Regions from separate parts of the Homo sapiens genome. Here all the other regions are linked to region 2. Evidence: fine-mapped expression QTL. A gene starts in region 2. Each other region holds a variant in brackets. All regions are shown on one strand. Distances are from middle to middle. Region 1 overlaps LINC02288 (long intergenic non-protein coding RNA 2288). Region 2 holds the start of IRF2BPL (interferon regulatory factor 2 binding protein like). Region 3 overlaps LINC02288 (long intergenic non-protein coding RNA 2288).

Region 1 (4,107 bases), 34 kb after region 2:
CTGGGCTCAAGTGATCCTCCCACCTCCCAAGTAGTTGGGACTACAGGTGCACACCACCACACCCAGCTAATTTTTTTTTTTTTTTTTTTTGGAACGAAGTTTCACTCTTGTTGCCCCAGGCTAGGGCACAATGGCATGATCTCGGCTCACTGCAACCTCTGCCTCCCGGGTTCAAGCAATTCTCCTGCCTCAGCCTCCTGAGTAGCTGGCACTACAGGCTCCAGCCACCACACCCGGCTAATTTTTGTATATTTAGTAGAGACGGGGTTTCACCATGTTGACCAGGCTGGTCTTGAACTTCTGACCTCAGGTGATCCACCCACCTCAGCCTCCCAAAGTGCTGGGATTACTGGTGTGAGCCACCACGCCTGGCCTAATTTTTTTATTTTTTGTAGAGACAGGTGTTGTCATGTTTTCCAGGCTGGTCTGAAACTCCTGGGCTCAAGCAATTCTCCTGCTTCAGCTTCCCAAAGTGCTGGGATTACAGGTGTGAGCCACTTCAGCAAAGAAATTTGTAAGAAAGGCAAACTGTCAGGCCCCACCCCAGACCCACTGAATTGGGAACTCTGCGGAAGAGGCCCAGAATCCGTGAATGAGCGTACCAGGGGCTTCCGATGCATGTTCGAGTTTCAGAACCACTGCTTGCAAGTCTTTGTGTAACAAAGGCCCCGAGGTGGGCAGGCGCAGGCACATTAGAGTACCCAAGGGGGGCCTGCAGGTGGGGCGGGAGTGGGGGTGGGGCTGGATGGTGGTTTACACTGGCCTTGCAGGCATGCTCAGCAGTTCAGCACGCATCATTTCCAGTCACCAGGAGGCCTGGCCAGAGGTTCCTCTGCCCTAAGAACCCTCAAGGAGTAGCAGGTCACCTGTGTGTCCAGGCTGGCCAAGTTACGTAAAAGCATGGAGATGACTATGACAAAGGCTTCTAGAGGCCCCTGGTCACCTGATCTTGACCATGTTTTGACTTCCAGGAAGCACTAGTCAGACAGTGAATTCTGTTGCTGTGAAAATGCCTTAGTCCTCAATGCCGAGAGAGGAACCCCAGAGGGAAACACCTCCTTATCCTCAAGAAGCCTTTGCAAAGGGCCTGTGGGTCCTGTTTCCCCTTGGATCGGTGCTAGCAAGGGACATTATCTGCTGAGCAGAGGGTTGCTAGAGGTGGCTTCTACCCTCCTCAGGAGGCAACCCTGAAACAGACACATTGCATTAAAGACCCTGCGCAGCAGAAGGCAGGTATCACCCGCTGAGAGAGCTGGTTGGGTGGAGTCAACGTGAGCTGCTGGAGCTGGGCTCATTGCACAGGAAGGACTGGCTGCTAGTTCTTTGGCTAAGCCTGAACAGGCTGGGTGTGGTCACACCTGCTTGCTGGACATGTTAGCCCAGAAATACATCAAAATTGGTGACAACCAAACAGCCCCCCAGACTCAGAGTCAAGTGGCATTTATGGGGTACCTACTATGTGCTAGACACTGTATGAGGCCCTTTCACAGGTGTTAGCTCTCTGGTAAAGCTCCCAAGTTTGCAGATCCCTTCTCCATCACCCTGTCTACAAGTGCAGATCAATCGTTAGTTCATGCTTGGTGCATCAGGACTCAGTGGCGAGCAGGACAGACATGGTATTTTCAGGGGCAACACAGCGGGGGAAAACAAAGAGATATACATGTGCCAGATAAGGAGCTATTGGTTGTTTTTAGGGCCAACTGTGAGGGTTCCCAGTGCTTTGTATCAAGAATGACTTTCTTTTTAAGGGTCTCTTGTAGAGAGAAAGAAATAAAGACAAACCACAGTTGGCTTGCGAGACTCACATTGGCTTTGCCCACAGTTACTG[G/GT]TTTTTTTTTGTTTTTTTTTTTTTGTGAGACGGAGTCTCACTCTGTCACCCAGGCTGGAGTGCAGTGGCACCATCTCGGCTCACTGCAAGCTCCGCCTCCTGGGTTCACGCCGTTCTCCTGCCTCAGCCTCCCGAGTAGCTGGGACTACAGGCACCTGCCACTACGCCCGGCTAATTTTTTGTATTTTTAGTAGAGACAGAGTTTCATCGTGGTAGCCAGGATGGTCTCGATTTCCTGACCTCGTGATCCACCCGCCTCGGCCTCCCAAAGTGCTGGGATTACAGGCGTGAGCCACTGCACCCAGCCTGCTCACAGTTACTGTTAAACACCACAGTAGAACCTGCCAGTAGCTGAGCACACGCAGGGCGCCAGCCACTAGACAGCATGGTTATCCAGCCACTAGACAGCATGGTTATCCATCTCACTTCCTCCTCTTTCCAGCTGCCCCGCCTCTCCATGGGGTTTTTCACAAGACGATCAGAGACCCAGAGACCCAAAGGAAAGGGAGACAATGGGGATTGGAGGCCACGGGCTTTAGGGGAAGGTAGGGGGCAAAAAATAGAGCATATGCAAAGCCCTGTCCTTGTTACTTCCCTCCCCAATCTCCACCACCACCCAACTGGCATATGAACTTGTTCTTCTTGTATACAGCTCTGAGCAAAGCACCATATGGCAGTTTCATCAGGCCCACGGCCTGGTTTCCATCCAGCCCACTCTAATTTCCTTCCAGTCATGGATCTGCAGAATAACCCATCCTGTGGAAGGAGCTCAGAGGAAGAAAAAGATAACAATAACAGTAAAGATATACAGAGCACAAACCACAGCGGGGAGCTGTTCCAATTATGTGTATGTTTGACGCTTGCAACAGCTCTAGGAATATCGCTGTTAGCATCCCCATTTTATAGATGACAAAACTGGGAGACAGATGTTCCGAGACATTCTCAAGGTCACATGGCTAGTGATGACAGAGCTGGGATGGGAGCCATGTTAACCGTCAGACTTTGCTGATTCGCTGAATCTTGGCTAAAAGATGTTGGCAGGAAGGGCTGAGAGCTTAGAAGAAGGGGTCCTCCCGGTCTGGCTGGGACAGGGTGATGCCAGCAAAAAGGCCCCTAAATCCACAAGCAGGGGAGGGGCGGGGTCAAGGCCCGGCTGACCTGACTCCAGCAAGCAGGGTCTGAGCTCCATAAGTGGAGGTGTCAGGGAAGCATGCAGAGGACTGGGAAGCAAGGAAGACCCCTGGAAGCAGCCCCCGCAGAGGAGGGTCAGGGAGGGCTGGGGGGCCCCCAGGAGCCCCAGGAGCTTGTCCCTCTTTGGGCTTCCTTCCGTGGCTAGGTTCTCTGCTCACCAGGAGTAAAGGGTAAGCATCCTCTCTGAGCCTGCAGAGCAGCAAGCCTGCACTGAGGCATTGTAGGAATGAGTGGCCCCTGGGATGGAAGGACCTGGGTATGGGTCTCAGCTCCATATCTTTGGGTTGTGTGGCCAAATCACACCCCATCACTCCCATGTCTGTGAGCCTCATCTATAGGGCAGTTAAGGAATGTGAATGGGCTGAAGTATCAGGAAACCAGCTGGGATCCTATCTCAGAAGAGGTGTATAGTACATGATCGTGCCCCTAGCCCCCATTCTTCCTTCTAGAACAAGGAAGGAGAAAACAAAGGCTCCCCGGGCAGTGAAGGCTGGGCCCTTGGTAGGCTTGGCAACCATGCAATCTCTAGAATGGAAGGGCTCCTCCCTCAGAGCACAGCCCTGGAGAGTCACAGCTGTTGCCCTGGGTCTGGCAGGACGAGGGAGGCAGTGCCAGGCTAGATAGAGAGTTTGAGGGACTCTAGGTTGGCAGTGGGGACTGTCATGCCCTGGCTCCTTTAGGATTCACAGGCCAGAGTGGTGGCTGTAGCCTAGTCCTCACTGCCAGAGACCCCACACCACAGTGGAGCCTGCACCAGGCACAGAGGCAGGAGGCAGAGCCATGCTTGCCCCTTTCTGCCATCCCTAGGATGCTAGAGGTAGCATCCTCCCAGCATGCTGGCAGGTGCGAGAAGGAGCTTTACTTGATGTAGCGACACCCCTGCTTCCCCCTGAGCCTTTGGGTTCCTTCCCACTTATGTCCCCTGCTGCGGGTCCACATGAGGGGCTTCTCACCCCGAGGCTGCCTCTACAGTGTCCACTGGACAACCTGGCCACCGCAGCCCCAGACTCAGATCACAAGGCCAGGATGGGCCTAGGATGCTTTGACCCTTCCAGCACAGCAGGAGCCTTTTGATGTGGGTCCAGGCA
Region 2 (4,086 bases):
GCTTCTCCTTCAACTCGCGCTCCTGGTCTGTGCTCGACACCGAGCCGGGCCTCTTACCACCAGCACCCACGCCCACCTCTGCCACCGACGAAGAGGTCGAAGACGACGCGGAGGACGACGTGGCCGATACACCCGGGGTACCCCCGAGACAAGCGGGGCCCCCAGGAGCCCCTGGGGGAGCAGGCGTCGGGGGCCCACGGCTGCCCAGGGCGTGGGGAGGGGGTGGGGGGAGTACCGCAGCGCTGGCCGGGCCGTTAAGCAGCGTCTGCGGTAGCAGGTTGGGGGGCACGGTGAGCTGGGGGCCTCCGCCACCCCCCGGGTTGGGCAGCCCCGTAACCAGCCCACCGTGCGTTCCACGCCGAGACGCCACCGACGCCGCCGCTGAAGAAGAATTGGGGCTCTGACGGTTCAGCTCTGGGGGTCCCTCCTCTGGTGTTGGTTTGGGGAAGCCGTTTGGGCCCCCCAGGCCGTTGGGCAGTCGCGCGGTGTGGCTGCTGCTTCCCAGGCTCACCGGCGGTGGCGGGTACTCGAAGCGGCTGCGCTGTTCCACCGCAGCGGCGGCGGCGGCGGCGGCGGCGGCGGCAGCGCTTAGGCCGTAGCGCTCCAGGCCAGACGGGGCCGCCAGCACCGCAGGCTTGCTGGAACCATCAACGTGGTTGAGCTGTTGTTGCTGCTGCTGCTGCTGCTGCTGCTGCTGCTGTTGCTGCTGCTGCTGCTGCTGTTGCTGTTGCTGTTGCGCGGCGGCGGCGGCGGCCGCCGCTGCTGCCGCCGCCGCCGCCGCTTCCTTAGCCGACAGGGCCACTGTCTTGACCCCGACGGGCGGCGGCGGCCCGGGGGAGCGGCCGTCCTGGAAGCAGCCGTGCGCCCGCTTCAGCTGGCGCGCTGTCTCGATCACGAATTCGATGCGATCAGCGCCCTCGTAGTTGACGCAACCGCGGCATACGGGTTCCGAGAAGTCCCAGATCATGGCCCAGGGCATGCGGGGCAGGTCGCACAGGTAGCAAGATTGTCTCCGGGACGAGGACACCTGCGCCGCCGACATGATGCCTGCCCTGGGGAAGGTAGGCCCCCGCCCGGGCTGTCTCCGCGGCGCCTTCTCCTCCGGGAGGACTGGCCGGCTGGGGAGGGAGTCCGACTGCGGGGGAGGGAGGAGGGGGGGCGAGAAAGTTCTGCCCCAGGGGCTGGAGGGAACGCGAGTCTCCACCGCCGGCGCAGCGCCTCGCCGTGGGGGCTCCACCGCCCGGGCAGCGGACGGGTTCAGCCCTCTCTTCGCCCCCACCTCCTACTGCGGTTGACTCGTCGCGAGGGGAGCTCAGGCGCCTTCTTCCTGGTGCTGCAGACTTGGGCTGGAAGCTCCCGGCCCGAGGGGAGGGGGCGAGGGTGCCCGGTGGTGGCCGCCGTTGCCTCTTGGCCCCCTCCCCGGAGTGGCTGGTGCGTGGAAGCTCGAAAGGGGCTGTCTCTTCCTCTCCCCGGGGACCCCCCTACGAGCTGCGTCCTCTCCCCGACGGGCCCCCTGGGGCGAGGGCCAGAGGGTTCAGTGCCACCCGGTGCCCGGGTCCAATCTTGCTGAAGCCGCTGCTTCCCCGGAGGACCGGGGGAGGGGGTGGCAGCCGAGAAAGGACCTTCTCCCCTCCGCAGCGTCGGCCGTTCTGCTGGCGGCGACTGGGTTTGCACCCCGGAGGGAGCCGCCGCGGCCACTGCTTCCAGGACGCACGAGAGCAGAGGAGAGGAGTGCACGCACGCAGGCTCCCGCCGCCCCCAGGCCTGGCCGGCGCCCGGGCCGCCGCGGCTGGCGGCGCTCACGTTGGCTGCAGGGCGCTCGCGCGGCGCCTCGGCCCGGGTCGCATCCCTTCCCGCTCGTGCTCACGCTCGCCCGGAATGTGGGGTTGTGATTGTTACTCTACGTTCCGGAGGCGCGTCTCGGCGCTCCTGCTCCGGCTGCGGCTCGCGCTGTCCCCGGCTTGGCCGCGCGGGATGCCGCCCGGGCGGAGCGCTGACGTCACCGCCATGCTCTGCACCAGTTCTTCCCCCTCCCCTTTACACTTCCTCTGTGGAGCCCACTTGTTGCTCAGGCAAGGCGCATGCGCGGCAGGACGCCCAGATTCCTCCCAGCCGGCCCCTCCTCCGCGCCTCCGCCCTCCCCTCCCCCCTCGCCGTGTGTGTACAACAGCTGAGGCCCGGCGAGCTAATGCTGGAAGTCCAGAGCTGGGGGTGGAAATTAAACAGACGATGACCTTTCCTTTCCCTGCCGGGCATTCCCAAGTAAAAACGCATTTAAGAACCACTAGCGTCGTTTCCGATCCCTGCTCCCCACCCCACCCCCAAGCCTCGGCAGTGAATTTAAATGTCCTGTTTCAGGATTTTTCGCCGTGAATTTCGTATAAGGTATTAACCATTTCATCTGCGGTTGAACCTTATCCCCCCCGGCATGGATGTTAAATTCATCGCCACCACTGATGCCGAAGCACCTGCAAAATTAGCTGTTTTCCAATCTTCCAGAAATTGTCTTTTCTATTTGTTTTTGTGCCCTGATCTAGGAACCCGGGCTTCAACGATAGAGCTAAATGAATTCAGAGTGCGCTACCCTTCCCCCCAGCCGCACTTTAAAAATTTTGGCTGAACGTCTGAAGAAGATACGAGCACCCCGAGGCCTTTAAGGAAAACAGGCAACTGGCTGCGCACAGCTGCAGTTCAGGGCAGGGAGGGGGAGGGGCCGGAGAGGCCAAACAGGTGAGTGTTTTTTCTAGAGTTTGATTTTTAAAAGGTGGAGGCAGCATTTAATAATACTGATACATTTTTGTAAAGCACAGCCGCAGTTTTCAAAGTTCTTTCTCAGGCGCTGTGATCTCACTCCATGTTGCCCCAGAAGGCGGAACAAGGCCGTGATTTTTTTTTTTTTTTTTTTTTAAGACGGAGTCTTGCTCTGTCGCCCAGGCTGGAGTGCAAAATGGCGCGATCTCGGCTCACTGCAACCTCTGCCTCGCAGGTTCAAGCGATTCTTCCGCCTCAGCCTCCCAAGTAGCTGTGATTACCGGCACCCGCCATCAGGCCCAGCTAATTTTTTGTATTTTTGTAGAGACATGGTTTCACCATGTTAGCCAGCTGGTCTTGAACTCCTGACCTCAGGTGATCCTCCCGCCTCGGCCTTCCAAAGTGCTGGGATTACAAGCATGAACCACCACGCCCGGCCAAGGCCGTGATTTCTTCTGCCTTACAAGATCACTGCTCATCAGTATTGCTTATGGCACGATGGATATGTTGGTCATAGCTCTAGTTGGGGCATTTCTATTGATTATTCTAATTATTGGGTTTGCTTTTTTTTTTTTTTTTATTTCATGAAAACTGAGATAATCCCAGGGAAGGCTGGAGAAGGGAAAGCAATATAATGGGATTTCGGATTCTGAAGTGTGGCCCACCAGATTGAAATTTCCTCTCCATCACTAACTGGCTCTCCACCCTTAAGCTAGTTACCCACAAAATCTCTCTTTTCCATGGAAAAGAGAATGGAATGATAGCTCCCAGGTTGTTAGGGTTGTTTGAGATTTCAACTTCGGTTTTTTGTTTTTTTGAGATAGGATCTTGTTCTGTTGCCCAGGCTGGAGTGCAGTGGCACACTCGCGGCTGGCAGCAGCCTGACCTCCCAGGCTCAAGTAATCCTCCCACCTCAGCCTCCCTAGTAGCTGGGACTACAGGCATGTGCCATTACACCTGGCCAATTTTTTTGTATTTTTGGAAAGGGATGGGGTTTTGCCGTGTTGCCCAGGCTGGTCTCAAACTCCTGGGCCCAAGTGATGCACCCACCTTGGCCTCCCAAAGTGTTGGGATTACAGGCATGAGCCACCTCACCCGGCCTCAATTTGTTTCTTGTCATAAGAAGAGATAACGCTTACTTAGACTTGCCGTGGGACCTTAGTAAACTAGGTGGCTTTACTTGCATCACCCTTAATATTATCTACATTATTAAGGGGATATTATCTATAGTATTTTGTTGTTGTTTTGAGACAGAGTCCACTCTGTCACCCAGGCTGGAGTACAGTGACGCAATCTCAGCTCACTGCAACCTCCACCTCCCAGGTTCAAGCAATT
Region 3 (4,107 bases), 25 kb after region 2:
CAGCCTCAGCTGCCTTCTCAAAGGCCGCCTTCACCTTAGAAGCTTGTTCCAGGGTCTCCTTTCCTGCTTGCCCCTCCCCTGTTGAGCTGGGTTCAGCACAGCCCTGCTTCGATGCTCAATTCTTTTTTTTTTTTTTTTTTTTTTTTGGCAACAGAGTTTCGCTCTTTCGCCCAGGCTGGAGTGAAGTGGCGTGATCTCATCTCACTGCAACCTCTGCCTCCCGGGTTCAAGTGATTCTCCTGCCTCAGCCTCCCAAGTAGCTGGGACTACAGGCATGCACCACCACGCCCGGCTAATTTTATAATTTTAGTAGAGACGGGGTTTCACCATGTTGGCCAGGCTGGTCTCAAACTCCCGACCTCAGGTGATCCACCCACCTCAGCCTCCCAAAGTGCTGGGATTACAGGCATAAGTCACCGCGCCTGGCCACTGACGCTCAAGTCTGTTCACCAAATCTTTATTGAGAATACTTTATGTAAGATGCCATATTCCTCCTGGCTAATGGTGGGGTGGGGTGAGAGATACCGAGAGCAAGATCAGAGTAGAAAGGACCTCAGAATGGCCTTTAAACTTGGGTGCCTCAGAACTCCAAAGCCCAAGTATTTAAGAAAGAAAAAAAGACTGCTGCAGTTTAATCTAGGGCAGGGATAGGGTCCTGTCCACTCTGCCTTGAGTCAGAGACTCCATGGATAACATCCAAACAACCCTGACCCAGACCAGGGGGGGATATAGAAGCCCAGAGAGGTGAAATGACCTCCCTCAGTCACACAGCAAGTTGGAGGCCCACTCAGGTTCAAAGTCAAGCCCAGTGCCTCGTCCATTGTACTGTCCTACCCCTTGGCACTTGTTTCAGAGATCAGCTGCGGAGATGGGGCGAGTCACCCAGGAACAGACAGACACACTTGCTACAGACTAAAGAGAACAAGTGGTTCTAACTCAGGATGGCAAAGGCTCCCCGGAAGAGGGGCAGGGAGCCGGGCCTAGGGCAGCATGGGCAGGATTGCTCATGGCACATGGCAGGGGTGGGGAGAGAGGTGGATGTGAGGAAGGAGGCAATTCCAGGCCTCAGAGAACATGATCTGCTAGCGCCTGAAGAAAGACTGGCAATCCAGAGAGCTGGGTTCCAGCCCTGGCTCTGCCGTGACAAGCCCCTGGGCCAGGGGCCTCCCCTTTGGGCCAGTTTCCTTGCATGTAAAATGGCAAAGAGGGTGGGCTAGTTGGCCCTACTGTGACATGCTAGGAAGCCTTCTCTCCTCCCACCACCACCAACACCACCCAGGACACTCCCCAGTGTGTGCCAGGTGTCTGGAATTGACACCAGGAGGGAGTGTCCCTGGCTGCCCTGTGGCACAGCATGGAGCTGGCAGGCCTGCCCAAGGTGTCTGCCCAGAGCTCTGGGAAACAGTGACAAACCATGAGGAGGCAGGAACTGGAGAAGAACCCGGGCAGGAGCCATTCCTCTTCTGAGAAGTGGTCTTTCCCATCTGGCCCTCTCCAGAAGCTCAGGCCTCTGCCAGGACTTGTTAGGGTCCCACCACCCCAAAGAGGCGAGGCCTCAAGGGTAGAGGGGTACGAGTCCCTGAACAACCCCAAGCCTCAGTATTCTCATTTGTAAAATGGGTAAAAATAGCACTTTAGTAGTCTCATTTGTAAAATTGATATCAGTACCTCAGATGATGAAATGAGATAATGCGTGTCAAGGGCCTAGCACAGCGCCTGGTGTAGGAGCCACACGTCCCAGAGGGCTGCCTGCTGGGGAAGACCGCATAATTTGAAGCCTCCTGACATAAAACAGGCTGGTTGAGGGAGGGCCCTTTCTGTCTAATACACCACTCGTCGGGACAGGATTGCAAAGGGGGCCTGGGGAGGTGAGCCCACTGGAAAACAATGTGTGCGCGCCCCCTGCTGGCTGCGAGCAGAGGTCCCGCCTGTCCGCTGGGGGTCTTCAGGTGGTTCGTGTTAGCACCACCTGCTGCTGCCGGGTCAATTGACCCAATATTCACAGATCACCCCCCAGGTGTCAGGTACCCCGCCAGGCTTTGGGAGGGA[T/A]GCAAAATGAGTGAAAGATAAGCTAGGTTTTTGGAGCCAACTAGTTTTGGTGTCGACCACGCATGGGTTCAAGCCCAGAGACTATCAATATCTGCTTGAATGTTCATTCATTCAACAGAAATGGTTCTGCATCGGGATATAGCAATGAACAAAGGTCCTGGCATCGTGGACTTGCGGTAATCTTAGACAGAGAACATAATCCCTCAGAGCTTCAGGTTCTCATCTGTAGCATGGAAGACTTCTCTACTCCTTCCCCTCAAACCAGAGGGTAGAGACCCTGGGTATGGATTTCAAGGTCGCTGTCATTAGTAGGAACTAACAGTCACCACCAACAGCCATCTCTTCTCAAAGGAAACCTCATCCCTTTGAGCCTGGGCTGTCATTCATTTGGTTCATTCTGAAGGGACCCTGTCATGCCAATCTCCCCAGGCTCTCCATCTACCAGGAACCCCGGAAGACCCCCGCCCCAAGCCATTCTGCTCCAGGGCAATGATAGAGCCCTAACCTCTAATGAGAGGTCATCAGAGTGGATGTGGGAGGATCGTGCAGTTACCCTGCAACTTTCTCTCCAGGTGACACATGGGTATTTCTCCTTAAATTAATTGGACTGGTTAGCCTCAGTGCCAACCTGGTAGGAACCATCGCCTGCCCGGATTCCTGTTCTCCCCCAGACCACTGGGCAAATCCTTCATGGTTGGTAGGGCTTTAAGGGCTAGAAGAGGATAGGAAATATGTTCTTGATGACTTTTTATTAACATCCAATTTTCTACTCCCCATGGCCTTCATTACACACACACACACACACACACACACACACACACACACACACACAGCAAAGGTGAGGATTGGAAGCCAGTTGATGCTGGAGGAATGCTTTAACACCCCTATCAACACACAACCCAAGTCGGGTCCAGCTTATTCTTTCAAGATGTCCACAGTTTCACCCCACGCTCAGGATATGTATGGGTGCGTGTGCTTTTGTACACACTCATATAGCAAACTTTGAGCTATAGCCAGGTACTAGGGCAATATTAGTAAACAAAATAGACAAACACAAACACAAAATCCTGCCCCACTGGAGCATACATTTGTGTGGGGGGGGCAGGGGGGAGTCTGGGATAGAAAAGTAAATAAGCAAGTAACATAAACATGATGTTTGAGGGTAATATGTGTTATGGAGAAAACTAAAGCAAAAAAGAGGGTGCCCCAAAATGAGTGGGGGATTTTAAATGGGGTGGTCAGGGAACGTCTCATTGAAAAAGTAACATTTAAATAAAGACCAAAAGGAGATGAGAGAGTGAGCTATGAAGCTATTTGGTAGAAGAGGGTTCCAGGCAGAAGAAATGGCAAACTCAAAGATACTGAAGCATGGTCAGAGAGGCTGTCCTAGTGGGAACAAGGAGAGAGGCGATGGGAAGAGGCAGGAGGTGTTGGGCTCTATTATTAATAAATTATGGTCAGGGGTCCCCCAATCCCCTTTTCCAACCAATATAGTTAATTTCATCCCTTTTCTTAAAGTTTTGAAACTAATACCTGTCTTGTAAACAAGCCATGACAAAGCTCTATTTAGAGAAATATGGTGGGGAGAGGCTAATCAGGGTAGATTTCCTGGAGAGGGAGGTTGGCTGACTTCTTCTCTTTTCAGGTGAAGAAACCAAGACTCAGAGACAGTCAATAACTTGCCTAAGGTCACAAAGCTAGAAACCGACAGAGAAGGGCTTACATCCATGCTTATCTGGTTTAGAAGCCACTGCTCTTAGCCAGGGTGCTGCCATGGTGACAGGCCATTTCCATTAGAGGAGAATGATGGCTGTTCATCTGAGGACCTGGAACAACACGGTCTGCGTGGCCATCACTCAGTCAGGGCAGAGCATGGGTACAGAATCGTGGCATTGTTTGGCTGAGAATCATAGATTCTCAGTGAAGCACAGGCAAGGTGCCAGGCCCCAGGCATGGGGTTTTAGATGCATGATCTCATTTAACTCTCATTTTACAGATCAGGAAATTGAGGCCTGTCACGCTTCCTGATCTTGTGTGTATCAGAACAAGATCATAACA

Evidence for each region. PIP is the estimated chance that this variant, and not a neighbour inherited with it, causes the effect. A credible set is the group of variants that fine-mapping cannot tell apart.
Region 1: its variant is the best candidate, but not a certain one, in a credible set for the expression of IRF2BPL in monocytes after LPS (Fairfax 2014, PIP 0.51).
Region 3: its variant is the best candidate, but not a certain one, in a credible set for the expression of IRF2BPL in whole blood (INTERVAL, PIP 0.76).

The regions. Positions count from the first base shown.
Region 1 is chr14:77,061,127-77,065,233 of GRCh38, forward strand. The region is part of intron 2 of LINC02288 (long intergenic non-protein coding RNA 2288); the gene reads left to right. Among named protein-coding and RNA genes, the nearest start is that of LINC02289, 13 kb to the right of the region's middle. The variant G/GT (reference allele first, on the strand shown) is at 1,829.
Region 2 is chr14:77,026,751-77,030,836 of GRCh38, forward strand. It overlaps IRF2BPL (interferon regulatory factor 2 binding protein like), which reads right to left and starts at 1,958. Exons shown (of 1, transcript NM_024496.4): 1 at 1-1,958. The coding sequence starts at 1,042. LOC107984638 (a long non-coding RNA gene) reads left to right here and starts at 718. Exons shown (of 4, transcript NR_190002.1): 1 at 718-1,061; 2 at 2,538-2,730; 3 at 2,911-2,986; 4 at 3,077-4,086. RefSeq lists silencers at 1,088-1,587, 1,708-1,917, 2,118-2,247 and an enhancer at 3,011-3,531.
Region 3 is chr14:77,051,525-77,055,631 of GRCh38, forward strand. All of the region lies in intron 1 of LINC02288 (long intergenic non-protein coding RNA 2288), which reads left to right. Among named protein-coding and RNA genes, the nearest start is that of LINC02288, 13 kb to the left of the region's middle. RefSeq lists an enhancer at 1,502-2,065 and a silencer at 1,877-1,926. The variant T/A (reference allele first, on the strand shown) is at 2,050.